Regions from separate parts of the Homo sapiens genome. Here regions 2, 3 and 4 are each reported to be linked to region 1. Evidence: microRNA targets listed by miRTarBase, many of them from high-throughput screens and not tested one by one. Region 1 holds a microRNA gene; each other region holds the end of a gene's coding sequence. Distances are from middle to middle.
Evidence for each region. The annotated mature microRNA hsa-miR-4465 reads CUCAAGUAGUCUGACCAGGGGA and lies in region 1 at 3,101-3,122, opposite strand. An mRNA with a match to its seed (bases 2 to 7 or 8) in the 3' UTR can be bound and repressed. Matches are read on the target gene's strand: a 7mer-m8 pairs with bases 2 to 8, a 7mer-A1 pairs with bases 2 to 7 and ends in A, and an 8mer does both.

Region 1 (7,126 bases):
AATTTATTCATATCATCTAAAAGTTGAGTATGTGTCAGAACTGAATAAATGTCTTGCTTTTTCTTTTTTGCTTTTAATGTTTTCATTCAATATTGTCAAATCCTACTCAAATCTTACTTTTCAATCCTTTGCTTCATAAGTGTGGAGCCAACCTGAAGATACAGTGAATACTGTTGTCGTTTTTTTTCTCAAACTATTAAATCAGAGCTAATTTCCTTGAAACAAAAGACCTCAAAGAGCCTGATTGAAATATGTTTGGGAAAGGATGATATGAACTGTGGCCATCCCTTTCCAATGCTAGTTTAAAAAGGTCTTGATTGCAGGCAATACCTGATAGAAATAATATTAATAAGAGTTTTCTTTTTCTTTAACTTTACCACATTTTTATTATTTTACCTTGTTCTTAATTCTGGGATTACTCTTGTATGCCTGTATCACATGCATCTTTATCTGTAGCTTTAGAACATGATGATTTTTACCATGTTTGATAATGCATTACCTCTTATTTCTGTCTGGGAAAAGTGTAGAATGCAATACAATATCAAACTTTACTTTTTGGCAATAGTCAAAATCATAGCCTGATATATCATGATATAGTTTGAGCAGAAATGAATTATTGTGGAAACACAGGTAGTAGATGATAATTAAACCTATGATTTGCTAATTAAATTTTGATGTAAGTAGGGATGGTTGTCCACATTATGACATAAGGCAAAATGTACATAAAAATCCCTTAGAAAAATCTTGGTGCTTTTATTTTTACCCAAGTAATCTTTTCTTTAATCTGTAAGACTACTATGATGGATTACTATGATATCCTTTTAGCTAGAAAGAAATCTAAGTTGGAACGGTATTAAATTTATTATAAGTAAAATAAAAATGAGCATTCTTCTCTGCATTAATTTTTATTGGAAAGTTCATGTTCTATCATTAATACATCTTTACTAAATACAACATTTATTGAGTATTCATAGAGTGAATATTATTCTATCATTTACTCTAAAATTTGATCAGGAATGGTGGCTCACACCTGTAATCCTAGCACTTTGGGAGGCTGAAGTGGGAGGATCTCTTGAGGCCAGGAGTTTGAGACCAGCTTGGGCAATATAGTGAGGCCTCATCTCTACAAAAATAAAATAAAATGAATTAAAATTAAGTAAAATAAAATAAAATTCATGGAGGTTTGTGGTTTTTTACTTCTTTTGGTTGTGATTGTATGCATATATATAAATAAATATACATATAACATTCAAAGACTTTACAGTTTATTGAAAATCAGAGGGATAAAACAGAGGCAATACAACAATGCAGCGTAATTAGAATTATAGAATATAGAGCTTACAAATAACTTAAGGCTCCATCTGGTCATTATCTATAGTAACATTTCCAGAGAACTGAAATCAAAGTAGATGTAACTACACAATGGTAAAACTGTTCCAGTGCATGTCATAGGATAAATACTCCAGAAAACTTTAATGAACAAATGAATTGTTCACTACCTACTTAGCAAATAAATTCAGATCTCCTCTAAGTCTTAAGCTTCATTTTTTTTCCTCAAATGAATATATTTTTTAAATATTTAAGATCCATTCAATTTACTTTGGATTGTGTAACTGTTGGGAAATGACCTAAGTTGATATTTCCTGTGTAAAACAGTAACACTCTCATTTTTATTTGGATCTACCTTGAGCCATAAATAATATTGGAATCTGGAGAAATCCTGAATGACTTAGCATTTTACAACTTTTTTGTTTTTCTCTTAATTGAACTAGAACATGAAAAAGTGCCAAGGAGTGTATATAAAAGAAAGAATTATCACTCTTACGATTTCTGGAGATTGACTTCTTAGTTTTAAGAGAATTTTGAATTTTCTACATTTATTTTGATAATCTTACACCCATATATATGAGCATACCAAAGATTGTTTGTATGACCAATTTATACCCATGTCCCACTGCTTTACTGAAGTCCTGGAGTTTGCATTTGCATTGGCCCCAAGTAAAGGACAAATTACATCATGGCAAGCTGTACAAATAAAGCTTTTACAGCCATTTACATAAGGCATAGTAGGGGGGAAATTGTCACCAAATAGCACATGGTCTTTCAACTCTGAAGAACTCAACAGAACCTGTACTGTAGCAGTCAGTGTCATAATTATTTCACTGGCAGATGTGTTGTATAGATTTAATTTTGAACAAGTAATGATGATACTAAATATATAATAAAGGACTTCATACTCCAAAATTTTTTTGCCTTTTATGAATATGATTGAATTGATTGGATCTTCAAAATAATTCCCTGATAGTTAAAATTTTGAGTTTTTTAAAGGCAAAAATAAAGGCAACGATAACTACTATAATTTAAATAAGGGTCAAAATAAGAATGACAAAAGTGAGAAAGTATTGCTTCATAGTTTTAATTTCATTGGTAATTGTATTTTTTTATAAAAATTATAATCTATGGCATATTAAATTAATGTTGTTAATTTGAATTTTAGTGATTTGGTAGGAAGCTTTAGTATTTTATTTGAAAATGAAATTTAATAGATTTCAGAGCTATAAGTAAAATAAGTTTATATCTTATTTTACATAAAAATTTTATTTTATACAATTATATCAAAACATATATAAGTTTTGTTGGTATGTTTTTAGCTGATATTATAAAAATTGATACTTAGAATTAAAGTGTACTTATCATTAATTATTTTTTAGCTGAAAATGGTCCATAGATTAAGGAAGTTGAAAAAACACTGGGAGAGTCCTCATTATGGTTGCTTTAAATGTAGACCGACATTTGCTCTTTTGTGTTTCCTGCTGTTTCTTTTTTTTTTCATAATTAGTAGCAATAAAATGCCATAAATATTTTTAACAATGTGTATGTTCATTTCAGGGTTAAAAGAGAAAAGTAGAGTAAATAATACTTCCTTCTTTTTTGCAAGAGGTTTAAGGGGACCTATTTAGTGGCACAGGTAGTATCCATAGAAGCGAAATAAGCAAGTTATATGCTATTGAAACTAAAAACAAACCAAACAAGAGATACATGCCCCACTTGTGACGGAAATATGCTTGTGGGAATGCAATCAATGAAAAGCTCTCATGTGTCCCCTGGTCAGACTACTTGAGGTTCCATAGTAAACCTCAAATAGCGTGCCAGGGGACACATGAGAGCTTGGGCTAGACCAGAGCAGGGCTGTCTAAGAAACGAACTTGACAAATTCAACTGTAACATCCTTTGTAGGCAGCACTACCAACCGTGGTACCTCCTGGACATCTCTCCAGCATAAGGAGCAAGGCAAGCCCTCTTTTCTCAAGGCTTTTATTCTCTCAGCCACGCCTTCACCCCCATTCCCTTCCCAACCCCACACACATAGAACAAAACTTAAAAGAACAAAAATTGCATCCTCTTCTAGAAATGGTAAAACTAGAGAATTTTTTCTGGATGCAGTTTGTTAAATTCAACATATTTTGCTAGATAACGATTTTACCTCTTTAATTAACACAGATAAATGATCTATTACTATTGCTTTCTTCTAGGCTTGTGCCATATGTGTAATATTAGACACTATATCTAATAACAATAAAATGTCGGAAGGGTTGCATGTTTGTCTTGCTATTAGAGATTTTGTCTAATATTACATACATATATATGTGTGTATGTAATTATATATAGAGAGAATATATATTTATATAGATAACATATATCTATAGAGATATATAGAGAACATATATCTCTATATCTATAGAGATATGTAGAGAACATATATCTCTATATCGATAGAGATATGTAGAGAACATATATCTCTATATCGATAGAGATATGTAGAGAACATATATCTCTATATCGATAGAGATATGTAGAGAACATATATCTCTATATCGATAGAGATATGTAGAGAACATATATCTCTATATCGATAGAGATATGTAGAGAACATATATCTCTATATCGATAGAGATATGTAGAGAACATATATCTCTATATCGATAGAGATATGTAGAGAACATATATCTCTATATCGATAGAGATATGTAGAGAACATATATCTCTATATCGATAGAGATATGTAGAGAACATATATCTCTATATCGATAGAGATATGTAGAGAACATATATCTCTATATCGATAGAGATATGTAGAGAACATATATCTCTATATCGATAGAGATATGTAGAGAACATATAGCTCTATATCGATAGAGATATGTAGAGAACATATAGCTCTATATCGATAGAGATATGTAGAGAACATATAGCTCTATATCGATAGAGATATGTAGAGAACATATAGCTCTATATCGATAGAGATATGTAGAGAACATATAGCTCTATATCGATAGAGATATGTAGAGAACATATAGCTCTATATCGATAGAGATATGTAGAGAACATATAGCTCTATATCGATAGAGATATGTAGAGAACATATAGCTCTATATCTATAGAGATATGTAGAGAACATATAGCTCTATATCTATAGAGATATGTAGAGAACATATAGCTCTATATCTATAGAGATATGTAGAGAACATATAGCTCTATATCTATAGAGATATGTAGAGAACATATAGCTCTATATCTATAGAGATATGTAGAGAACATATAGCTCTATATCTATAGAGATATGTAGAGAACATATAGCTCTATATCTATAGAGATATGTAGAGAACATATATCTCTATATCTATAGAGATATGTAGAGAACATATATCTCTATATCTATAGAGATATGTAGAGAACATATATCTCTATATCTATAGAGATATGTAGAGAACATATATCTCTATATCTATAGAGATATGTAGAGAACATATATCTCTATATCTATAGAGATATGTAGAGAACATATATCTCTATATCTATAGAGATATGTAGAGAACATATATCTCTATATCTATAGAGATATGTAGAGAACATATATCTCTATATCTATAGAGATATGTAGAGAACATATATCTCTATAGATATAGAGATATGTAGAGAACATATATCTCTATAGATATAGAGATATGTAGAGAACATATATCTCTATAGATATAGAGATATGTAGAGAACATATATCTCTATAGATATAGAGATATGTAGAGAACATATATCTCTATAGATATAGAGTTATGTAGAGAACATATATCTCTATAGATATAGAGATATGTAGAGAACATATATCTCTATAGATATAGAGATATGTAGAGAACATATATCTCTACAGATATAGAGAGATATATAGAGAACATATATCTCTACAGATATAGAGAGATATATAGAGAACATATATCTCTACAGATATAGAGAGATATATAGAGAACATATATCTCTACAGATATAGAGAGATATATAGAGAACATATATCTCTACAGATATAGAGAGATATATAGAGAATATATATCTCTACAGATATAGAGAGATATATAGAGAATATATATCTCTACAGATATAGAGAGATATAGAGAATATATATCTCTACAGATATAGAGATATATATAGAGAATATATATCTCTACAGATATAGAGATATATATAGAGAATATATATCTCTACAGATATAGAGATATATATAGAGAATATATATCTCTATAGATATAGAGATATATATAGAGAATATATATCTCTATAGATATAGAGATATATATAGAGAATATATATCTCTATATCTATAGAGATAGATGTAGAGAATATATATTCTCTATATCTATAGAGATAGATGTAGAGAATATATATTCTCTATATCTATAGAGATAGATGTAGAGAATATATATTCTCTATATCTATAGAGATAGATGTAGAGAATATATATTCTCTATATCTATAGAGATAGATGTAGAGAATATATATTCTCTATATCTATAGAGATAGATGTAGAGAATATATATTCTCTATATCTATAGAGATAGATGTAGAGAATATATATTCTCTATATCTATAGAGATATATAGAGAATATATATTTTCTATATCTATAGAGATATATAGAGAATATATATTCTCTATATCTATAGAGATATATAGAGAATATATATTCTCTATATCTATAGAGATATAGAGAATATATATCTATATAGAGAGATATATGTGTGTAATATTAGACACTATAATAATAATAAAATGTCTGAAGCGTTGTGTGTGTATTATTAGATATTATATCTGTATCTCTATATAGATACACCTATATATACACATATACACACATACACAGACACACACATACACACATATATATATTTTATTTAGATATATATAGAGAGAGAGACAGAGAGAGAAGGTTAAAAATAAATAGAAGTATTAAAATTTTTCAGGAGAAAGATTTAAAGAAATGTAATCCTAGACTAAAAGAGAGTATCATGGCCTCACTGATACTACTATTATTTCAAAATAAGCTAATCTTTTATGTGTAACTATGATGTCTGACTGTTTTATACTGAAGTAATACATCTAATACTGATGACACATATGTGTGTATGACTCTGTCATATTTATCTTTTCAATTTCTGTCTCATTTTATGCCTGACATATGGAGAAGTTGAGAATAGTTAAGTCGCCAATAAAAAATACAAAAAAAAAAAAGAAACATTTTAAAAATAGGGAATGTATGGCTTTGTGACCTAGAAAAAATAAAGCCTTTATAAAAGGACCGTTTGAGGTATGCATGGGACTTTGACAGATAAGTATGAGATGAAGGAATTCCACATAGAAGGAACATGGACAAAATCAGAGATGGCAACGTATAGAATATTCTTTATATTTATAAATTAAACAGTTGAACTACAGAGTAGAAAACTTGACAAAAGGAAATTTAGAGTAGGCTATACTGGATGGCCTTGAGTGTAAGGGAAAGTGCCAGGTATTTAATTTGAGAGCCATATACTTTTATTGAAGGATTTTCTGCAGGAGTAAAATATAGTTTGGTTTACTTTTTTTTTTTTTTTTTTCTTGAGAAAGAGTCTTGCTCTGTAACCAAGGCCAGAGTGCAGTGGCGCAATCTCTGTTCACTGCAACCTTCACCTCCAGGGTTCAAGCGATTCTCCTGCCTCAGCCTCCTGAGTAGCTGGGACTACAGGCGCCCGCCACCACGCCCGGCTACTTTTTGTATTTTTAGTAGAGCCGGGGTTTCACCATGTTGGCCAGGATGGTCT
Region 2 (7,126 bases), 13 Mb from region 1:
TGAGAAATCTTGCCTGTTTTTATAAGGTGCAGAAAGTATCCTGCTTTTGTATTTCTCTGCTTTTTAATTGAGCCCATCAATGCCCACAAGGTCCTATAGCTAAAGATGGGAAATAGATATATCTGTACAATAACCAAACAAAATTCTTGTTAACTAACAAGAAATAATACTGAGTGATTTCCCTTTTTGCATTCATTGGGAGTTTGGCAGGGAGGTTCTCTACTATAGATCCTCAGGAGCAGTTTTTGTTTTTGTTTTTTGTTCTTCCTCCTGTGGGAACAAATCTAGAAAATAAGTCTCCAAAAAGAAAAAGAAACTGCAGTTTACTGTCAGACCATGGCTAAAATAGTAGAAATAGGAGGCCATCCTCACTGCCTAGCTCAGATGAAAGAGCACAGGCTTTGTGGGGTCTAAGAAGGGTCAATAAGAACCAAGTGTATAAAGTGTGTCATGGAAGCTTTGTACTTTTGTTTTAATTTTAAGGACCAAGGAATGCTTTTTTTCCATTAAAATAAAAGGAAAGAAGGAAGAAAATAAAAGAAAGAGAAGAAAAGTGAAGGAAAAGGTTTTCTCTCATCAGAACATGCCCAAGAGATAGCAATTTTGTATTAGTAATTAGAATGAAGATGTATTTAAAAGTATTTTAATGATAATTTTAAGGTTTTGATAGATAGTGCCAGTGATAGTGAAAAAAAAAAGCATCAGATTAATCATTTGGTTTGTGTGCCTTTTGCGTATCACCTCTAAAAGTGTCAATGAATTTGACATAAATGAACAGTTTCTTCTATAAATTATCTTTTTATTTTTAAATAACACTGTAACATACTAACAGCGCACTAAGAAACATCTGTATTTCCATGATATTCAAGTTATTTAACTTGAAATTTTAAATCCTGAGCTCATCATTAGTTCTACAGAGAGATTAACTGTATTAAAATTTGTCAGTGTAAGGAAAGGTACAAAATTATCAAATATCATATTCCATATTAAAATTGAATTGCTTTAAAACATTCAAAACCACAAATATTAGACAACTACCTTCTTTAGTTTTCAATGCTTTTTCTTTCTTGTAAATTTACTAACGGACTAATCTTATAGTTGAGACCCATCATATATTAAGCCTATTGTTGGTACCCAGAGAGTGAGAGGAATGTTTTTACTTGTGTCCTAGGAATCCATGTCAGTGAACGCCTCACATGGAAAAGGATTTTCCCGACCTGCTAGACCAGCAAATCGTCGTCTCCCCTCCAGATGGGCATCCAGATCTCCATCTGCACCCCCTGCCTTGCGGAGAACTACCCACAACTATACCATTTCTCTGCGATCCGAAGCATTGATGGTTTAAGTCTTTGGCCTGGATTGCTATATTACAGAAGTTCTAGTCCCACTTGTCAAACAGAGCATTCTGAGTGTTTACAGGCGGACCTGTTCTCTTCCGACAAGCAATTTGAATCTTAACTTTCCATCAGTCTTCAGTGTTTTTAATCTAAGGAATAATTATCTTCCTGCATTTTGATTTCTTAGATCAGAATTTTTTAATGCCATCCTCATTAGTTTTCCAATACAATATAAGTTGAAACAATGTACAATATTGTATATTCTTTGTTGCAAGTGGCAGAAAGTAAGGTTATGTGCATGGCCATGTGTTTGTAGGTGCATGTGTTGAAATAGGAAGTATCCTAGTATGTATTTAGATATGAAAAACTTATGTGCTAGTGTTGACTTTGAAATTATAACATGTATACCTATATATTCTTTGTGTTTATTTAAAAGTTTTGAAAATATGCAGTACTGTTTATATTTTGTATACCTTTTAATAGGTATCCACTTAAGGCATTTGCAGTACAAATATTAATTGACCACTTCCTTGGCCCCCAGCTACAATGAAAAAGAAGAATTATGCACACATCTAACATTGGTAGATTTCTAAAGACAACTCATAAATAATTTCTTAACCCATATAAGGATAAAATAATACCATTGATATTCTTGTTTATTCTTTTTAAATAAAAATGTCACAAGTTTAATAGATCAGCCTTGTAAAGCAAGCATAAAATGTTCATAAATGTTTTATATATTATTTGGTAGTCTAGTATGGCTTTAACTGAATATTTGATCCTCAGAGACAGTATCATGAGACTGCATTATAAATGACATGATTAAATGATGAATTTATTTTGTCAGCCTCAGCAACAAACATTTCCTAAATGGGATGCAAAAAGAAACTGAATGATGTTGAATTTTAGTTTTTCTTTAAGTTGTGGTAAGCTTTTAGTTTAGCTGCTTTAACATGGAGTCATACATACTTAGAGGTAAGTCATTTATTATTTTTTTCCTTTTTCTAATCTTTTCCTTAAAATTAATAGATAACAAACTAAGTTACTTTTTTACTAACAAGGAAGATCAGGAATAATATTTCTTTGAAAGCTGAAATTATACTTCTCACAGTTTGCTACCGAAAAAAGGCTTAAACTAAACCTTGACATCCACAGTAGCATCAGGAATAGAAATGTGTATTTTGGCTACAGTTTGCATACAGTGAACACATAAAATCTATATTGAAAACTGACAGAAATATGAATGTCGAGGGGCTTGGAATTCTAAATGGAAGATTTTAGAAGGAACTTTGCTCTCTACTGTCACTATATAAAACCAATTATGTTATGTTATTAGATATTAACTCTATTTAAGCTTTTCTTTTACTAAGAAATTCTTATGCCAAATGTATTCCAAGAGCCATCTCCTTATGATGTATTTGAACCATTTAGAGAAATTCACTTCATTGTACCCCATGACCTGAGGTAAAGAAAATAATTTTCAAATTGCAGACTTCCTTGAAAGGCTCAAGACTGTAGCATGGTGATGTCTAGATTCATACTTTACTGTAAGGACAGTTTCGGTAGTTAAGTGGAATTAAAGGTCTAGAGTGATTTGTATTGGATGGTAACTAAGGTCTATACATCTACTCTTTTAATTCTTATTTCCTTCAGGAAGATCCTTTTCCACAGGAAGCTATCAAAGAAAAGTAAACTAGACACCAAGTAATATCACTCTCATAATATGCTTTCCAGCTAGAGGGGAGAAAACACCAGGAAAGAGGAACCCTGGGTCATAAAATGACGGACCTGTTAGGAAAATGCTGTTGTGTGACAATGGAGAGCCTGCCCAAGGACTGTGCAACCTATCTGTTCCTCTCCACCAGTGTATCCCAAGTAGTCTGGTATGATCTGTGGTTCCTTAGAATATTGAGGATCTCTTTAAAAAATGAAATTTCTGATCTCACCCCATATTACTAAAGCAAAATTTCCAGGGGTAGGGACTGGGACTCCAGAACCATTAATAAAACAAAACAAAACAAAGCAAAATATTGATGATCAGGCAGATTTGAAAACAGTGACATTGCTTGATCTCTGAATGGATGGATGCCCTTGGGTGGTCACTTTTCTTCCTAGGACTTGCCTTTGTTATCTGTAAATTAGAATGGCTATACTTTCAGACTTCACAATTTTAAGCCACTTTTTTCTATTAACAGTTGAATGAACCAGTGGGACACATTTTAACGTCTTCTTATGTTGACTAAAATTATAGTTAGAGCTGAGAAAAAAAAAATAGCATCTAGTCCAACTCCTTGATTGTAAAACTGAAAAACTAAGGTTATTTGAATGTTCTGTTTTCTCTTTTTAAATATTTTATAACTTTTAAATGGAAAAACCTATTAGGTAAATGGAAATAATCCTTGAAAATAGTTTTTGATGTTTTGTGATTTTTAACTGGTAAATTTCTACTTTAGGTGGGCATTTTCTTCCCTAGAATATGCCCTTTATTATGCTATCATTGCTAGATTTAAAGGGACTTGTAAGCATTTCTGGAAATATTTGATTTAAAAACATATATTAATAGATGTTTTCCCTAGCAGACTTTTGGAGCAAAAATATTATTTTAGTTCAGCAGAGGATTACTGATATTATGGGCTGATCTCAGAAAGGAATAAGGATGAGGCAGAGAGGAGTACTTGAGTTTGTGTGTGTGTGTGTGTGTGTGTGTTTGTGTCAGTGTCACATAAGTTCTCCATATTGCCTTATGTCCCAAAGCCAAATATAAAAATATAAATGATGCTTTGTATAATTCATTTTATCAAAAATTACCCATAACTTTCATTTGTTTTTATATCGACAATGAAGATGATCATATTTCATTTTGCAGATGTGGCCATAAAATATTATTTACTTCTATATAGGTGATTTTACCAGGTTTAGTTATCCTGAGAAAACATCTGGACTTAAGAGTTTCTGCTTCCCTACAAAGATCTTTAAAGTTATTTTTAGGCACATTTGTGACAAACAACTACTTGATATTGAAATCTCCTTCAGCCATTAGAAGCTATCAAATAAAGTAGGTGTAAAAACAACTGTCTGTGGCATTTGTATACATCGAGAACATTTTTCTTTCCCTCATTTTCTGCAGTGAACTCCAGTAAAGCTAAGTGTCTTATGAAATCTAAACTCATATATGTACACAGTTCACTCTAGCTTCTTCCAAAATATCTCTAGGTAGTACAACTGAAGCCAAACCTGCCTGACTTCCTGCTCCTGGCCACCCAAAACTCCATATGGCTTCTCGTACACTGACATCCTCTCTCTACCCATTTAACTGCTAATTGAGTCTGATAAAAGTCTTCTTTGAAAAAAGTTTTTACTTCTAAGATTTGCATTTACATCATAAAATTAAACCATTTTCAGGAAAATCAGATTTTTTTATTACAGTACTATTTGCTTTAAATTCGGCATGTTTTTCTTAAGTAGCAAGTACATGTATCGGAACTTAGAACTGGTGGGCGCGGTGGCTCTTGCCTGTAATCCCAGCACTTTGGGAGGCCAAGGTGGGGGGATCACGAGGTCAGGAGATGGAGACCATCCTGGTTTCATCACGGTGAAACCCCCTCTCTGCTAAAAATACAAAAAATTAGCCAGGCATTGTGGTGGTCACCTGTAGTCCCAGCTGCTCGGGAGGCTGAGGCAGGAGAATGGCATGAACCCGGGAGGCAGAGCTTGCAGTGAGCAGAGATCGCGCCACTGCACTCCAGCCTGGGTGACAGAGTGAGACTCTGTCTCAAAAAAAAAAAAAAAAAAGAACTTATAACTATGACTTGTTCATCTCACCCTGAAAATATGTTCCTACAAGAAAATGTGCTTTGCAAAGCAAAAAAGGCAAAAATTGGGGATGAGTTCTTCAGACAAGTACCAAAAATGATTTCTCGTCATTTTTATTGTATGCATATTCATCATAGAAAATAATTTTTTGTTTTATTGGGAATAAAATCATGATACTTAAAATCTGATACACATTTCAATGATAGTATTAATCCAATAGGTTAAATTAACAAATTCTTAGGAAAAAAATCTGTTTATATGAAGCTATGGAGAAATCTAGAAAGTAGGTAACGGTTTAGATTTTGAGGGACCTATGAACTCAGAACAAGTTCATTTAGAGGTGGGAAACCTGAGATTCAAAGAGGTCTGCATGGCTGCCAAGATTGCAGGGACAGAATCCAAGCCTGGGCTCACTCATGATCTGCTCTCCTGTATAAATGTCCCATGTGCATCTATGACCTTATTGTTTGCAAAGCAAATTCATATTCCACGACTTGTCTGCTTCTTACAACAAACTACAAGGCAGGCATTGTGATTTCTAAGTAAGAAGGAAAAATTAAGTAGTCAAGATAATATTTAGAATAAATATTTTTGAAGATGATAGTTAAATAGATGGCTCTTCAGACTCCTAGCTCAGGCTATTTTTCCAGCCTTCTTTTCCCAAGGAAGAGAAGACAAAAAAAAAAAAAGATTGAACAGCTCTTTTTCATTTTTGTTTTGTTCATTTTATACATGACACAAATTGTTTATCTTGCTCTCATTGGGAGTTTCTGTTGATTCCCTCTTTCAATGATCATCAAAAGTCATCACCCCTGACTTAAATGGTTTTATGAAATTCAAGAAGTTGTGAACAAGGCTTTAACAAAATATTTCCACTTTTAATGCCTATGCTCTGATTTTATATAAATTTTGTATGTAGGACATGATGTTGAAGTAAAACCAATAAATAGCCAATCAGTATTCATCTCTAGCGTCAACTGAATCCTGACCTCAATCTTCAAAAGAATCAGAATAGTTTCACACTTCATAAGTTACATATACTCCAGAATAAATAAAAGCAGTTTGCTTGAAGTATTATCTTGGCTCATTTGTGCTGCTATAACAAAACACACTTGAGACTGGGTTATTTATAAAGAACAGAAATTTATTTCTCTACAGTTCTGGAGGCTGGGAAGTCCAAGATCAAGCTGCAAGCAGATTCGGTGTCTGGTGAGGGCTGCTGTGTGCTTTCAAGGTGGTGCCTTATTGCTGTGTCTTTATATGGCAGAAGGGGCCAACAATGGAGAAACAGCAGAATAGCAAGAAGCAGCTGAATGCTATGTGATGCTTCTTTTATAAGGGCCTTAAATCCCATTCATGAAAGAGAAGCCTTCATAATCCAATCACCTCCTAAAGGCCCTACCTCTTAATATTGAAGATTAAGTTTCAACATGAATTTTGGAGGTACGTATTCAAACCATAGCAAGCATACAGTAATTTCCAATATAAACCTCACTCAAAATTACAGTCACATGCTGCACAAACCAGTTCAATGCACATATATGATGATAAGATTATAATACAATATTTTTGCTATACTTTTTCTATGTTTACATATACAGATATCATTGTGTTACAATTGCCTTTAGTATTCAGTACAGTAACATGCTGTACAGGTTTGTAGCCTAGGAGCAATAGATCATACTTTCAAGCCTACCATCTAGATTTATATAATTACACTCTGTGATGTTCGCTCAGTGATGAAATCACCTGAGAACACGTTTCTCAGATCATATCCCTGTTGTTAAGCAATGTGACTGCAATTGTGCTCTGCTGCCAGTTTATTTTTGAAGCTTTATTTTTCAATTACTTACTCATGGCAATTTTATAAGAATCATTAAACAAATTTAATCCAGCTATTTGGGATCTGCAGATTTTTTCTTACATAATGCTGACCAGTCTCAACACCAAATTGTCTAACCTGAATTATATATTTG
Region 3 (7,126 bases), not on the chromosome of region 1:
CGCATGCTCAGGGTCCGGGTGCGGTGGCTCATGCCTGTAATCCCAGCACTTTGGGAGGCCGAGGCGGGCAGATCATGAGGTCAGGAGATCGAGGCCATCCTGGCTAACACGGTGAAACCCCGTCTCTACTAAAAAAATACCAAACATTAGCCAGGCATGGTGGCGGGTGCCTGTAGTCCCAGCTACTTGGGAGGCTGAGGCAGGAGAATGGTGTGAACCTGGGAGGCAGAGCTTGCGGTGAGCAGAGATTGTGCCACTGCACTCCAGCCTGGATGACAGAGCGAGACTCCATCTCCAAGAAAAAAAAAGTCCACATGCTCATACCGAGATTTCTGGCAGTGAACTGCCTCCGTATCAACTGTCCCCCCAATGAGCTCTGTTCTTTTCTTTGTAGAGTCACTTATACCTACTGGTCACTGACCAGGGCTTTCTACAGGAGGAGCAAGTCGTATGGGAGAGCCTGCACAATGTGGATGGAGACAGCTGCTTTTGTGACTCTGACTTTCACCTGAGTCATTCCCTGGGCAAGGGGCCTGGAGCAGAAGGTGGGAGTGGCTCCCCAGAAACGCAGCTGCAGGTAGACCAGGTGTGTAGGGCACTTAGGAAAAGTGCAGAGAGCACATGTGCCTCAGAGAGCTTTTTACTGCATACATTTTAACTGCTAGAGGCCATGTGAACCCATGCCTCTCTCTCTGGGTTACCTCAGACCGTCTCCTCACTTGGTGTGTATTCTCTGGCACCACAGATAATGCATTTGGCTGTGTGTGCTGCTCTGTGGGGAGAAAGAGCTAGAGAATTTGAGGGATGTGGGAAAACTGATTTGGAAACCTTGCCTGAATAGCCACGGCTCTGGGCCTCAGCCCACTGCACAACTCTTGTTCTCCCCAGGACTACCTGATTGCTCTGTCCCTGCAGCAGCAACAGCCACGAGGCCCGCTGGGGCTTACCGACTTGGAGCTGGCCCAGCAGCTTCAGCAAGAGGAGTATCAACAGCAGCAGGCAGCGCAGCCAGTGCGGATGCGGACGCGGGTCCTGTCACTGCAGGTGGGCTGCTGCCTGGGCGCCCACACTCCCGGTTTCCACCTCATGCTTTGCCGGGTCCAGAACACCTGTTATTCCTGCACTGGTCTCTTCAAGGTTTCTTCTCTCAGAGTCCTTCCCCTGCCTGTCCCTCTCCCCTGGAGCCCCTTCCTGTCTTCCTCTCCCTACTCTCTGTCCCAATCCTGACACCCCTTCTTCTAGAATCTCTTCTTGTGCTCTTCCAAGGAAGTTCAGTGACCAATTGTTAAATCCGATACAGGGGAGAGGAGCCACATCTGGACGCCCAGCCGGGGAGCGTCGGCAGAGGCCGAAGCACGAGTCAGACTGCATTCTGCTGTAGCTCTGCCCCAGTGCCAGGCTGGCCTGCCCCTTCTTCCAGAGGCTATGGCTAGTTGGCTTGCTCCCCCGCCTCCACCCCTGAGATGTGCTGGATAACTTATTTATGGACTGTTGGGGATGAGAGCAGGCAACAAATGCCAAGGTCAGACTTGGTAATGTCCTTGACCTCACGTGCTGCTGCCTTCTCTGCCTCCCATCCAGGGCAACACTAGGATTGGTGGGTTTCTGGTTCTCAACTCCCGGTCCCTGAATAGTCACACGTATGTACAGACTGAGGCTCTGGGGTGAGGTCCCTATCCAGAATGCATCTCTTCTGCTTCCCATCCCTGCTGCCTGGATGCTCCTGATCACCTAGGCAGGCCTGTCTCCAGTTGTTTCAGAGCTTAATTTGGGTTTCTATCTCTTATTTGTAATGCCTTCCTGGGGTTTGGAAATAAAACTTCTGGCCGGGCACGGTGGCTCACTCCTGTAATCTCAACAATTTGAGAGGCCAAGGTGGGCGGATCACCTGAGGTTAGGAGTTCGAGACCAGCCTGCCCAAAAAGGTGAAACCCCGTCTCTACTAAAAATACAAGAAATTAGCTGGGCGTCATGGTGGGCGCCTGTAATCCCAGCTACTCGGGAGGCTGAGGCAGGAGAATCACTTGAACCTGGGAGGTGAAAGTTGCAGTGAGCCGAGATCGCACCATTGCACTCCAGCCTGGGCGACAAGAGCAAAACTGTCTAAAAAAAAAAAAAACCTTCTTTCCTGAGATCTGTTGTTTGCCTTACCCTGAAGCAATAGGGTTAAGTATTTGACCCAATTGAAGAATGCAAAAAGCGGGAGGTGGGTCAGAGGCAGGAAGGTGGTTACCTGTCATTTCTTTTTTTCTTTTTTTTTTTTTTTTGAGATGGAGCCTCGCTGTATTGCCCAGGCTGGAGTGCAGTGGTGCAATCTGAGCTCACTGCAACCTCCGCCTCCCGGATTCAAGCGATTCTCCTACCTCAGCCTCCTGAGTAGCTGGGACTACAGGCATGCGCCACTGCGCCCAGCTAATTTTTGTATTTTTAGTAGAGACGGTTTCGCCACTTTGGTCAGGCTAGTCTTGAATTCCTGACCTCAAGTAATCCGCCTGCCTTGGCCTCCCGAAGTGCTGGAATTACAGGCGTGAGCCACTGCGCCCAGCTACCTGTCATTTCTAATATAGCCTGCAGGGGGAACCAAAGCCTGACTTTTTGTTTTTGTTTCTGTTTTTGTTTTTGTTTTCTATGGGAAATAGTGCTCTCCTGGGAGGTGGGTTTCCAAATCTCTGCTTGGACACATGAATTTGAGGGTTGTGCTCTCCACTAACCCAAGAATTCCCATGCTGGGGAGGGTAGCTTGGCCCTCCGCTTGCTTCCCAGTTCATACAGATGGTCCTTTGCTCCCTCTATTTCTCACCTTGTTCTAATGCCTGTTTCTCAATTATTTTGCCTGAAGTTTCCTGGAGAATGAGGGTGAGGGGAGACCTGGAGTGGGAGACCTGGGTGTGGATTACTGTAGCACTAAGGCAAAACAGGATTCCTGCGGAATAGCCAAGTGCACATCAAAGGCACTTCCAACTCCAGTGCCTCTTCCCGGTCCATGTCCTGCTCCACCCAACCTTCAATCAGGGAACACAAACAACAGCGAAGTTTGCCAAAAGAATTCGAGTATCAGTGAGATGTTCTGGCCAGGGTACAGGAGGGATGAGTGAGGCAGAAACTATCAAAGAAAACTCATTTCCCCACACCCAAGAAGGAGCTGGATGACCCAGGTACAGATATAATTTTGAGATGGGAAAATTAAGGGATTTTAAAGAAACAGTTCCAGCCTCAACAAGAAGCTAGAGAATGTGGTGCTCAGTGAGGGGTTATCCTACTTGGAGGCCCAGCTGGTCTCCCAGGTTCAGCCAAACACGGAAATCTCAGATCCTCGGATGTCATGTGGGGTGGGGCAGGGAAGTCTCACATGTCTTCAGCCCTGCACAAGGCCAGGAGGGCTGACTGGCAATCCCCTTTCACTGCATCCTGCAGACAAGGGAATTCAGTGTTAGAAAGATCCACCACCACTATGGCCCAAGTGCTCTCTCCCCTCCTTTGGGCTGGTCCATCACAGTTCATCTGGGAGGGAAGGGTCCTCCCGGGAGCTCAGAGTCCTGCACTACATTAACCAAAGACTCCTGGGTTTTCTTTTTTAAGATGGAGTCTTGCCCTGTCACCCAGGTGGGAGTGCAGTGGCACGATCTTGGCTCACTGCAACCTCTGCCTTCTGGGTTCAAGCGACTCTCCTGCCTCAGCCTCCTGAGTAGCTGGGATTACAGGTGCACGCCACCATGCCTGGCTAATTTTTGTATTTTTAGTAGAGACGGGGTTTCACCATGTTGGTCAGGGTGGTCTTGAACTCCTGACCTCGTGATCCGCCCACCTCAGCCTCTCAAAGTGCTGGGATTACAGGCGTGAGCCACTGTGCCTGGCTAACTACTGGGTTTTCTATGGGGCAAGAATATGCTCAGCTGTGTGCAGGGAGTGAGGGTGGAGGTGAGGAGTGAAGGCCTGAGGCTCCAGGCTAAGAAGTAGCCAAGTTTCACCTGGAGAGAAGAGTAGAGGGACTTCCCAAATTTCTTCCTGAACTCAGCTCTGATACTCAGAAGGTCAGTCTCACATCGAGAGATAAGGATGCGAATCAGGACTTGGTAATTGGGCTCAGTTTCCTAGTAGGGGAAGAAAGAGATGGGGGGTAGTTAGTGAGAGTCTCACTGAGAGTAGGGGTTGAATGGCTTGGAGGGTTATTGTAGGAAGGGGAGGCAAGGTGGGAGTCAAGGGATAAGAGTGTACATTATACATTATCTCGGGACAAAAGTTATGTTTGTCCATCCTCAAGGAAGATGACACAGCAGGAAAGATCAGTCTCTGTGGGGGCAGCTTGAGTATTTATTTCTTTCCACATGTCTTTCCTGCCCCTACCATTAGCTTAGAGCTGTGTACCTCCAGAATTTGGTGGTGAGCAGCTCCAAAGATAGGTACACCAGGAAGGCTAGAAAAGATTTGGTGCATATAAAGACTGCCAGCATGAAAACCAGGAAAACTGCTTTTAACTTTCAAGTTAGTGAATATCCAAGGAGGATATACCTGCCCTATCCCTAAACTGAGCTGATGAGGCTCTGATAGGGTTCAAGGTTGTGTGACTTCTAGTTCTGATTCCAACCCAATAGGGCCATCTCACAGCCCCATCTCTGCATATTAGTTTCTCCGGTTGGACCCTTAGGCTGAAACATTGCTATCTTCCTCCTGTACATGCAGCAGGCCTGTTTTTTGGCTAAAGAAAGTAATGAAAGGTTCAGTTTAGAAATAACAGGCCAGGCACAGTGGCTCATGCCTGTAATCCCAGCACTTTGGGAGGATGAGGCGCGTGGATCATCTGAGGTAGGAGTTCGAGACCAGCCTGACCAAAATGGTGAAACCCCGTCTCTACTAAAAATACAAAAATAAGCCAGGCATGGTGGTGGGTGCCTGCAATCCCAGCTACTTGGAAGGCTGAGGCAGGAGAATTGCTTGAACCCAGGAGGCGGAGGTTGCAGTGAGCTGAGATCGCGCCACTGCACTCCAACCTGGGCAAGAAGAGCAAAACTCCGTCTCAAAAAAAAAAAAAAAAAAGAAAGAAAGAAAAAAGAAATAACAGGCCAGGTGTGGTGGCTCATGCCTGTAATCCCAGAATTTTGGGAGGCCAAGGCAAGCAGATCATTTATGGTCAGGAGTTCGAGACCAGCCTGGCCAACATGGTGAAACCCCCGTCTCTATTAAAACTACAAAAATTAGCCAGGTGTGGTGGTAGGCGCCTATAATCCCAGCTACTGAGGAGGGTGAGGTAGGAGAATTGCTTGAACCTGGGAGGCGGACGTTGCAGTAAGCTGAGATCACACCACTGCACTCCAGCCTGGGACAGAGCAAGACTCCGTCTCAAAAAAAAAGAAAAGAAAAGAAATAACACAGGTACAAGTCATCAAAATCCTGAATTATAATTGATTATACTAAGTAATGTGTTGTTATGAGAGATTTTTAAATAAAAACTTTTAATTGTAAAATTCCTGTGTTTTTTTTTTTCTGTGCACCAGTGTTGTCATCAATTCCTAATATCCTCATTTTCAGAGTTTCCTGAGTCACTTTACTCACAAGACTCTTCCCAGAACTGCCTACAACACATACTTAGGGCATCCCAATAGATCATAAACTCCTTTGACAAAACAAAAGAAAATGAAGTAAAACAGGATGCTCCAATTCATTTAGACTCATTACCTAATTGTCAGTGGACCTAATGTCTACTTCATTTTAACTTTTATGCATCATTAGTTTTGTATTGTCATAAAGATTGCCAATTGCTCCCCAGTATCCATTCTTCTCTTCTTCCAACGCTTGTTACTCTAAAGTTACAGAATTGGGCAAGAGTCACTCATTAACTGAATACTCTCATTGTTGTACAAGTATTCTTTTTTCTTGCTCTGTCACCCAGAGTGGAATGCAGTGGCGTGAATTCAGCTCACTGCAACCTCCGCCTCCCAGGTTCAAGCAAGTCTCCTGCCTCAGCCTCCCAAGCAGCTGGGACTATAGCATGTGCCAAACGCCCAGCTAATTTTTTTATTTTTAGTACAGGTGGGGTTTTACCATGTTGGCCAGGCTGGTCTCAAACTCCTGACCTCAAGTGATCTGCTCGCTTCAGCATATATATATATGGTTTGTTTGTTTAGATGGAGTCTCACTCTGTTACCCAGGCTGGGGTGCAGTGGTGCGATCTCAGGTCACTGTAACCTCTGCCTCCCAGGTTCAAGCAATTCTCCTATCTCAGCCTCCCAAGTAGCTGGAAATACAGGTGCACACCACCACACCTAGCTAATTTTGTATATTTAGTAGAGACGGGGTTTCACCATGTTGGTCAGTCTGGTCTCGAACTCCTGACCTCGGGTGATTCACCTGCCTTGGCCTCCCAAAGTGCTGGGATTACAGGCATGAGCCACCATGCCTGGCCTAATTATAATACTTAATCGTATACCTGGCATTGCATATGGCCCTAGGATCTTCACCAGGAACATTAATTTTTACTACAGATTGGTGGAAATTTGTCCTGAATCAGCCATTGCTGATTTTCTGAAGGTTGTTTTTCTGAATAAATATTCTTCACAATTTATGTTTTCATATATCTACATATCTCTCATAAAAGAATAATACAGGCTGGACACGGTGGCTCACGCCTGTAATCCCAGCACTTTGGAAGACTGAGGCTGGTGGATCACCTGAGGCCAGGAGTTTGAGACCAGCCTGGTCAACATGGTGAAACCCTGTCTCTACTAAAAATACAAAAATTAGCCGGGCGTGGTGGCGGGCGCCTGTAATCTCAGCTACTCAGGAGGCTGAGGCAGGAGAATTGCTGGAACCCAGGAGGCAGAGGTTGCAGTGAGCCAAGATCGCGCCATTGCACTCCAGCCTGGGTGACAGAGCAAGCCTCCATCTTAAAAAAGAAAAAAAAAAAAGTTTGCCACCAGCGTGGCCAACGTGGTGAAACCCTGTTTCTACTAAAAACAAAAAAATTAGCCGGATGTGGTGGCGGGCAACTATAGTTCCAGCTACTTGGGAGGGTGAGGCAGGAGAATTGCTTGAACCCAGGAGGTGGAGGTTGCAGTGAGCCAAGATCGTGCCACTGCACTCCAGCCTAGCGACAGAGTGAGACTCCATCTCAAAGGAAAAAAAAAGAAGA
Region 4 (7,126 bases), not on the chromosome of region 1:
GAATTCACGTGGAAGTCAATGTCACTTTATAATCGATAATAATACTGAGTGAGGAACACTATGCAGGAAGAAACCTTCCGTAGAAAGACAGGCAGGGAAAAGCTTAGGCTGACCTTAAACTTACCTAATAGAGCAAGCCTGAGATAGACTGCCAAAATGGCCAAATAAGAGACTCTATGAAATAACAGTCTTGTAACTGTAGTAATCATAAGGAAATTTTCTCCTTGAAATCACGATACCAAATAGGAAAAATGATCTACAAGTGCCCCATGTGTAGGGAATTTTTCTCTGAGAGAGCAGATCTTTTTATGCATCAGAAAATTCACACAGCTGAGAAGCCCCATAAATGTGACAAGTGTGATAAGGGTTTCTTTCATATATCAGAACTTCATATTCATTGGAGAGACCATACAGGAGAGAAGGTCTATAAATGTGATGATTGTGGTAAGGATTTTAGCACTACAACAAAACTTAATAGACATAAGAAAATCCACACAGTGGAGAAGCCCTATAAATGTTACGAGTGTGGCAAAGCCTTCAATTGGAGCTCCCATCTTCAAATTCATATGAGAGTTCATACAGGTGAGAAACCGTATGTCTGTAGTGAGTGTGGAAGGGGCTTTAGTAATAGTTCAAACCTTTGCATGCATCAGAGAGTCCACACCGGAGAGAAGCCCTTTAAATGTGAAGAGTGTGGGAAGGCCTTCAGGCACACCTCCAGCCTCTGCATGCATCAAAGAGTCCACACAGGAGAGAAACCCTATAAATGTTATGAGTGTGGGAAGGCGTTCAGTCAGAGTTCGAGCCTCTGCATCCACCAGAGAGTCCACACTGGAGAGAAACCCTATAGATGTTGTGGATGTGGGAAGGCCTTCAGTCAGAGTTCGAGCCTGTGCATCCACCAGAGAGTCCACACAGGAGAGAAACCTTTCAAATGTGATGAGTGCGGAAAGGCCTTCAGTCAGAGTACGAGCCTCTGCATCCACCAGAGAGTCCACACAAAGGAGAGAAACCATCTCAAAATATCAGTTATATAAAACGTTTTGCTAAGAGTTTAAAATCTTAAAACCCATAAGTGCCACTAGGAAGGAAACCCTGTATATACCTACATTGACCCAAGAAATATTTACGCAATCCCTAGCAGAACATTGTTTCTGAGGAGGCATATGTGAGATTGATTTGTTGGTTCATGCCAAGTGTGTTCCACAGGTTGACTTTGAATGTGGACCTCTGAGCATCCACGCAGGATGGCTCTCAGGTCCCAGTCACAGACGTCGCTTCCTGGGATTCCAGCACGATGCCTCCATAGTTGAAAGACTACACAAAAAGCCACAATCATTGCCCGGCCTCCTGAGTCACCTTCTATCTATACTTTGCTTAAAAGCTATCCCAGATACTCCCCCTTGAGGAGCTCATGCCCTTCCTTCCTCTTTATTCGAGCATACTGGCAATGCATTGGAAAACAGACAGCTCCCACTAAGATCACGTTCTGGTATTTCTGAGGTTAACACTTGATTTAGCCCCTACATATCTTTCCATATATCCTATTATTTCTGAATATATGTCCTCAAAATCCCCATAAATATCCATCCCTTCCTAGATGGCATTAACTTTCATTTTAGATTTTAGGTGACTCATAATTCCCATTCACTTAGCCTATCAGAAAAGTCATTGGCAGACATATATGTCCTTGAACCTTTTTTATTTGTGTGGATTCTGCTCATCACTGTCTCTGTTAGACTTATTTTGTAGTGGCTGCATCACATATTTTTCACTTGAATTTTTTTGGAAATAGCTGAATGTAAATAGCAGGGAGGAAGAAGCAAGCAAAGTGAGAGCTTTTCTTCATCCAGAATTGCCCTCTGGGCTCCTTTGGTAACAGATGGAGCTCCTTCCTAGCTAGGGAGACCTTATGAGAAGTGGATGGTAGGAGGAGTCACTAATGTTTCAATCTCTATTTCTGTAATCTTGGGCAATAATGCATAGGAGTTCTTGATACCCCTTCATTGATTACTGTGTATCAGTTCTTTGTTAGGCATGAACGTCTTTATTAATCCATCATTCTTTTCTTCATTCAACAAATATGTATTGAACACCTCCTATATGCCAGGCACTGTGCTAGGTGCTGGGAATACCACTGATGAGACAGACAAGGTCCCTACTCTTGTGGAGTTTACTTCTGGTGGAGGAGACAGATGATAAGTAAACAAATAAATAATGTAGTTTGAGATAGTGATTAAGTGCTATGAAGAAAATAAACTAGGGTGATGATTTTAGTGGTGGGGTGGGGTGGGGGTGGGGTGACATTAGCTAGTGGTCAGGGAGGCCTTTCCGCGGTGGGATGTTGAGCTGAGGCCGGAGGAGAAGTAGCAGTCGCTGGCAGAGCACACAGGCTGCTCTGGGGGATGAGCTGGTGCGTTTAAGGAACAGGCCAGCACTGGCATTCGCAAGCAGTGGGGAAGGGGAGAGATGCCGAGGTGGTCAGTATCCTGACTTTCAGAGGCCTTTTTTTGTTTGTTTTAATTTTTGCTAGATTGATATTAAAAACTCATGTGGAGGAACTCAAGGAATGTTTAGAAGACCAAAAGTCCCCAATGACAGGAACAAAAGCAACCAATTTTTAACTTTCTCTTCTCATTCCTGTTTTCATTGATTTCCCACATGTAGTCCTTTTGCTCAGGAAGTCTTTGGGGAAATTAAGGATCTTTGAAGCTCTGAAATAGGTGATCAGGTTAGTGGTGTCTGTCAGCTGTCTAAGAGGTTGGAAAATGAACTACTCAAGATAGTCACGAAAATACTGAAAGTTTGATTTTTCTTTCCATATTTGAATTAATTTTTTCTGTTTGACTGGAAGGGGTTTTTGTATAACTAAAACCTCAGCGCATAAAGGAGATTTAAAAGGAGCACATGATTTAGTGGGTGGGCCATGAAACTAGAGATGGGATTTGGGGGTGAATTTGTCAATATCTGGATTTTAATCCAGACATCTCTGCTAACAAGCCTTTGGTAAGTCACTTCAGATACTTTTCCTCCTTTTTACAAAGAGAGGGCTGGCTTAGTTATTTGCCAAAGCCCCTTCCAGGCCTGAATTCCACAAGTACGATTTACTGTAGTGTCTTATCACTCTTTCATGTCACAATAGCGTGGAGCATTAGAGAAAAGCCTAGACTTTTAGTTGATAGCCAGTTGAAATATCATTGATAGAATTTTAGTTTTAGGAAAAATTGGTTTGATTTCTAGCTTTATTACTATTAGGTATGTGAGCTTGGGCAAATCGCTTAATCTTTGAGTCTAGTTTTCTCTCAAAATGAGAACATTAGGCTAAATGATTTCCGAGTTTCCAGCTAGTCCTAGAGTTCTATATTTCTACATAGTTGAATTATTTTATCATGCTGTTGCTGGGGAATATGACTAACCCTTTTGAAGCTACTAATTTTATGTCGAGCTTTAAAGTCCATAATTGTTATCTTCAGAAAATATTATTTGACCTACAGTATGTCCAAATCAATTTAATAAAATCGCTTTATAACAGGGTTCTGTGCTTGACATGTAGTTGTGTGAATTCAGTGGTCGTGTGTGGGAGTATGGGTATGGGTGTGTGGTGGAGAATTGGCTTGCACATTAAGCCCAGGGTGACCATGTAATTTATTGTCCAAACTGAGCACTTGAGAGTGAAGGGAGGGGGTGCTGTTGATACTCACATCTGGACAACAAGCCTCGAATGGGCCTTTCTCGGGCACACTAAGGTGTGAGGACACCTTGGTCTGAGGTCACAGCCACACAGGTAATAAATGACTCAAGTCAGGAATAATCCATCTGGAGAGAGCACAGTCCACTGAGAGGACTGCCTCAGCTCGGCTGTGGCTCTGTGTTCACGGCGAATACAGGCCCACAGCTCTTCTAAGAAAACACCAACCTCGATTTTCACACACAGTTTAATCTTAAAATGTTGGCAGCTAATTCCTTTTCCTTGGGTGATCCATTTTGGTGCTTTCTGTGATCTTCCTGGTGCCCCTTGGCAGTTCCTCCAAGCCCTGCCCTGGCCCCTGCTGACTGCAGCCCATGCCTGGGAAGGCGTGAAGTGCTGTCAGCTGAAGCAGAGGGGGCCCACGTTCTGTGCCGCAGTCAACAGTCTGACTGGCTGTGGCGTCTACCAGCTTTGAGAGACAAGTCTGCATTGCAATTCCACCATTGGGATGGGAGCAACCCAAACTAGCCCTTCTGATGGGGGTGGGGGGTGGGGGCAAGGGTAGGTCATCTGTGATGGGATTCACTCTTGGTGAATCTGCTAGGATTTAGAGTGTGAGCCAAGATAAGTCCAGAATGACTGCATGGTTTCTAACTTGGAAGCATGAATAAACGGCAGATTGCCTCTTGCAGATAGGAAGAACTCTTTGCATCAGAGTCCAACATTGAGATAGTCTACTGCGTGAGAATGTGGGCACAGCTCGTCAGGCCATCTCAGAAATTGAAGAGGGATTACTTTGTGTTGTGTGAGCATGGACATGATTCCTTCCAAGGGACCTTCTAGCTCTTGGCTCTGTTCTTAAAATTTTTGAATTATTTCTCAGTCTTTGTAATGTACTGATATTCTCAGAAATTTGAAAAACTAGGTGAATGGAAAGCAAATATCAGAAGCAGATGGAAAATATACTCAGTGGTAAAATCTAGGAAAAGATGAGAAAGGTTGATACTACTACAGGGCAAGAGCCATATATAAATAGCAAAGCTGAGTTAAGATCTATGGATTAGAGAGGAAGAGAGGAAAAATGAAGATGATAGAGCACTTCCTCTAACCATATTCATTTTCTTAATTTTTCTAAACCTCAAGTTTCTCATCTTTAAAATGGTTTTGAAAATATCTAATTCATGGAAATGTTGGGAGAAGTAAATAAACGTAAAGTGCCTAGCATTTAGTGCTATAACGAATTCCTATTCCCAGTTGCCTATTAAGGAAGAAAGGTCATGTTATTTGGATTCCTTTTTGTTTTGCTGAGCTCTGTGGTGGGTTTGGACATCTAAAATTGGGGTAGGACCTGGAGAGGGCTGAATTGCTCCACATGGTAAGAGAGAGAACTTGAATCTCCTGGGGTAGTTGGAGGTAAGAAAACAAAGGGTAGACTTGGAGTGGGAGAGAGGACCAGGGAACCAGTGGAGTAGGATGGTCTGAAGTTCTGAGCTCTTGTGTAGGAAAACTTCGTGACCACAAAGTCTTTCCCTAAAGTTAGGGGTGTTTGGCATGGTGGATTTCTTATGGAAACTGGTGGAAGGGCTGAGTGCTGTATCCAGGGTGAAATGGGGCAACACGTAAGTACCACACATAAATATAGGAGCCAGAAGAGGGTGCCCCTGAGAACAAGCTCCAAGGAATATGCAGAATATGCAGAAATCTTCAGGGTAGCTAAAAGCTGCTACAGGCCATGGAATTAATGGAGTTTTGAGTCAAGTTTACCCAAACCCCTAAGGGGCAGGGAGGCCTGGGATATCTTTATTTCCACTCTCAATGTACATGAAGTAGAATAACTTTATAATCATAAGTAAGTTGAAACTTAAGAATTTTTTTTATCATTCTCATTTTAACATATTACAAAACACATGAACAAATCCAGAGATCCCAAGGCTGTGTGTGTGTTTATGCCAGTAAGAACTTGTCATAAATATCGGTGGAAAATGACACTTTATACCAAAGCAATTTTATTGCTCAGATTTAGGCATATGTAAATAAACTGCATTTCTAGAGTAAAGTAGCACATACAGATTTTGTGTATTTTTAGGCGGATGTATGCATTTTATAGACTCTGTACCTTCCTAAATACTGTGTCTAAATATGGCTTCGCTGAGAGACCGACTTTCCCTCCCCCTCTTAATTCTTTGCTGGCCCTGATCCAGGTCTTCTCTGCATCATGAATTATGGTGGGGGTGTTGTATTTACAGAATTTTAAAACCTAAGACCTGCAGACGGCTTTTGGGGAGGTCTAGAACCTTTTTAAGTTATGTGCAGAATTTTGTGTACCTGTAGGTCTATGCATTTTTCTAGGAAAGGGGGCTTTCCTTATGTTTGTGACTCTAAGAGATAAAGAACACTGGCTGGCATATGGTTACTCGTTGTTTGGGGATCTTGGGAGGCAAAAGGGGTGCCTAAGAGTTCCAGTTAGTGGAATGGATAGGAAATGATGGGTATAATAAACGGAGGAAAAAACACAACGCTGTGTTGTGAGGAAAGAGGGAAAAGGACGTTGGCATAAAATGGAAGGATACATGTGCATGTGTTGTTATGCTGGGCCCAGGAGGTAGGCTGTGTGGCAGTTTCGATGTCATACGCTTAAGACAACAGTTCTGCGAACAGTGTATTAAAAGAATATAGGTGAGGACAATTGAGTATTCAGAGGGGACTGGCTGGACGTGGACGGAATTGGCTACCTGAATGGAAAACACTAGATCTCAACTGAATCTGTCTTGGTTACAGAGGAGGCAGTTCTTGCTGTAAAATGGGTGAGGGCCCCAGTACTGGTGTGGGTTGTATTTAGGTTCTCAAATAGACCTATTCATATTGCTCAATGCCATGTTCTCTCATGTCTAATTTTTATGTCCTACCTCACTTGCCTGGGATCTCTGACTGTTTAAGTCAGTCCTCTTTAGTCTTCATCCTGTCTGTCCCCAAAATGTCTTTTTTTTTTTTTTTTTTTTTTACCCCTGATACTCTTCCATCCTTGTGTGCCCCCCGCTCCCCTTTCTGAGATAAGGTCAAGACCCACAGGGACTTAGTCTCAAGGGTAAGTCCTGTTTCTACAGTCTGTGGAGGATGACGGGAGAGTCTGGTAGAGCAGCAAGCCCTACTTCCTGGAGCTGTTGTTGCCACATTGTTATAGTTGAAACAGGCAGTGTCTGGAAAGAACTGAATCCTCTGTGTTTTGCTTGCCTCACTTGATCCAGTAAACATTAGGAGAAGAAATTAAAAAAACAGGAAAGGATAAGATGGCAGGAGTAAGTTGAAGCATATTGTTAATCATAGTAAATGTGAACTGGTTAAATTCAGCTACTTAGGGACATTTTCAAGTTGATTTGTAAATGACGTCACAAACGTGTATATGATGGTTATGGGAGACCACCTAAAATAAAGGGGTGA

Region 2: miRTarBase lists KIAA0408 as a target of hsa-miR-4465. Seed matches in the 3' UTR shown: 7mer-m8 at 4,010-4,016 and 7mer-m8 at 4,346-4,352.
Region 3: the mRNA of MINDY1 is a reported target of hsa-miR-4465. The part of its 3' UTR that is shown has no 7-base or 8-base seed match.
Region 4: the mRNA of ZNF664 is a reported target of hsa-miR-4465. Seed matches in the 3' UTR shown: 7mer-A1 at 1,774-1,780.

What each region holds. Positions count from the first base shown.
Region 1 is chr6:140,679,851-140,686,976 of GRCh38, reverse strand. It overlaps MIR4465 (microRNA 4465), which reads right to left and starts at 3,163; the gene lies at 3,094-3,163. All of the region lies in intron 4 of LOC105378027 (a long non-coding RNA gene), which reads right to left.
Region 2 is chr6:127,438,328-127,445,453 of GRCh38, reverse strand. KIAA0408 reads left to right here. Exons shown (of 6, transcript NM_014702.5): 6 at 1,172-7,048. The coding sequence ends at 1,345. SOGA3-KIAA0408 (SOGA3-KIAA0408 readthrough) reads left to right here. Exons shown (of 13, transcript NR_174482.1): 13 at 1,172-7,048. Among named protein-coding and RNA genes, the nearest start is that of KIAA0408, 17 kb to the left of the region's middle.
Region 3 is chr1:150,991,542-150,998,667 of GRCh38, reverse strand. MINDY1 (MINDY lysine 48 deubiquitinase 1) reads left to right here. Exons shown (of 10, transcript NM_001376665.1): 8 at 395-586; 9 at 889-1,044; 10 at 1,301-1,833. The coding sequence ends at 1,381. It overlaps ANXA9 (annexin A9), which reads right to left. Exons shown (of 14, transcript NM_003568.3): 13 at 3,969-4,091; 14 at 3,034-3,408. The coding sequence ends at 3,346. Among named protein-coding and RNA genes, the nearest start is that of MINDY1, 12 kb to the left of the region's middle. RefSeq lists enhancers at 624-1,123, 2,473-2,692.
Region 4 is chr12:124,011,894-124,019,019 of GRCh38, forward strand. It overlaps ZNF664 (zinc finger protein 664), which reads left to right. Exons shown (of 5, transcript NM_152437.3): 5 at 1-3,534. The coding sequence starts at 252. The coding sequence ends at 1,037. The region is part of intron 2 of ZNF664-RFLNA (ZNF664-RFLNA readthrough); the gene reads left to right. Among named protein-coding and RNA genes, the nearest start is that of ZNF664-RFLNA, 42 kb to the left of the region's middle.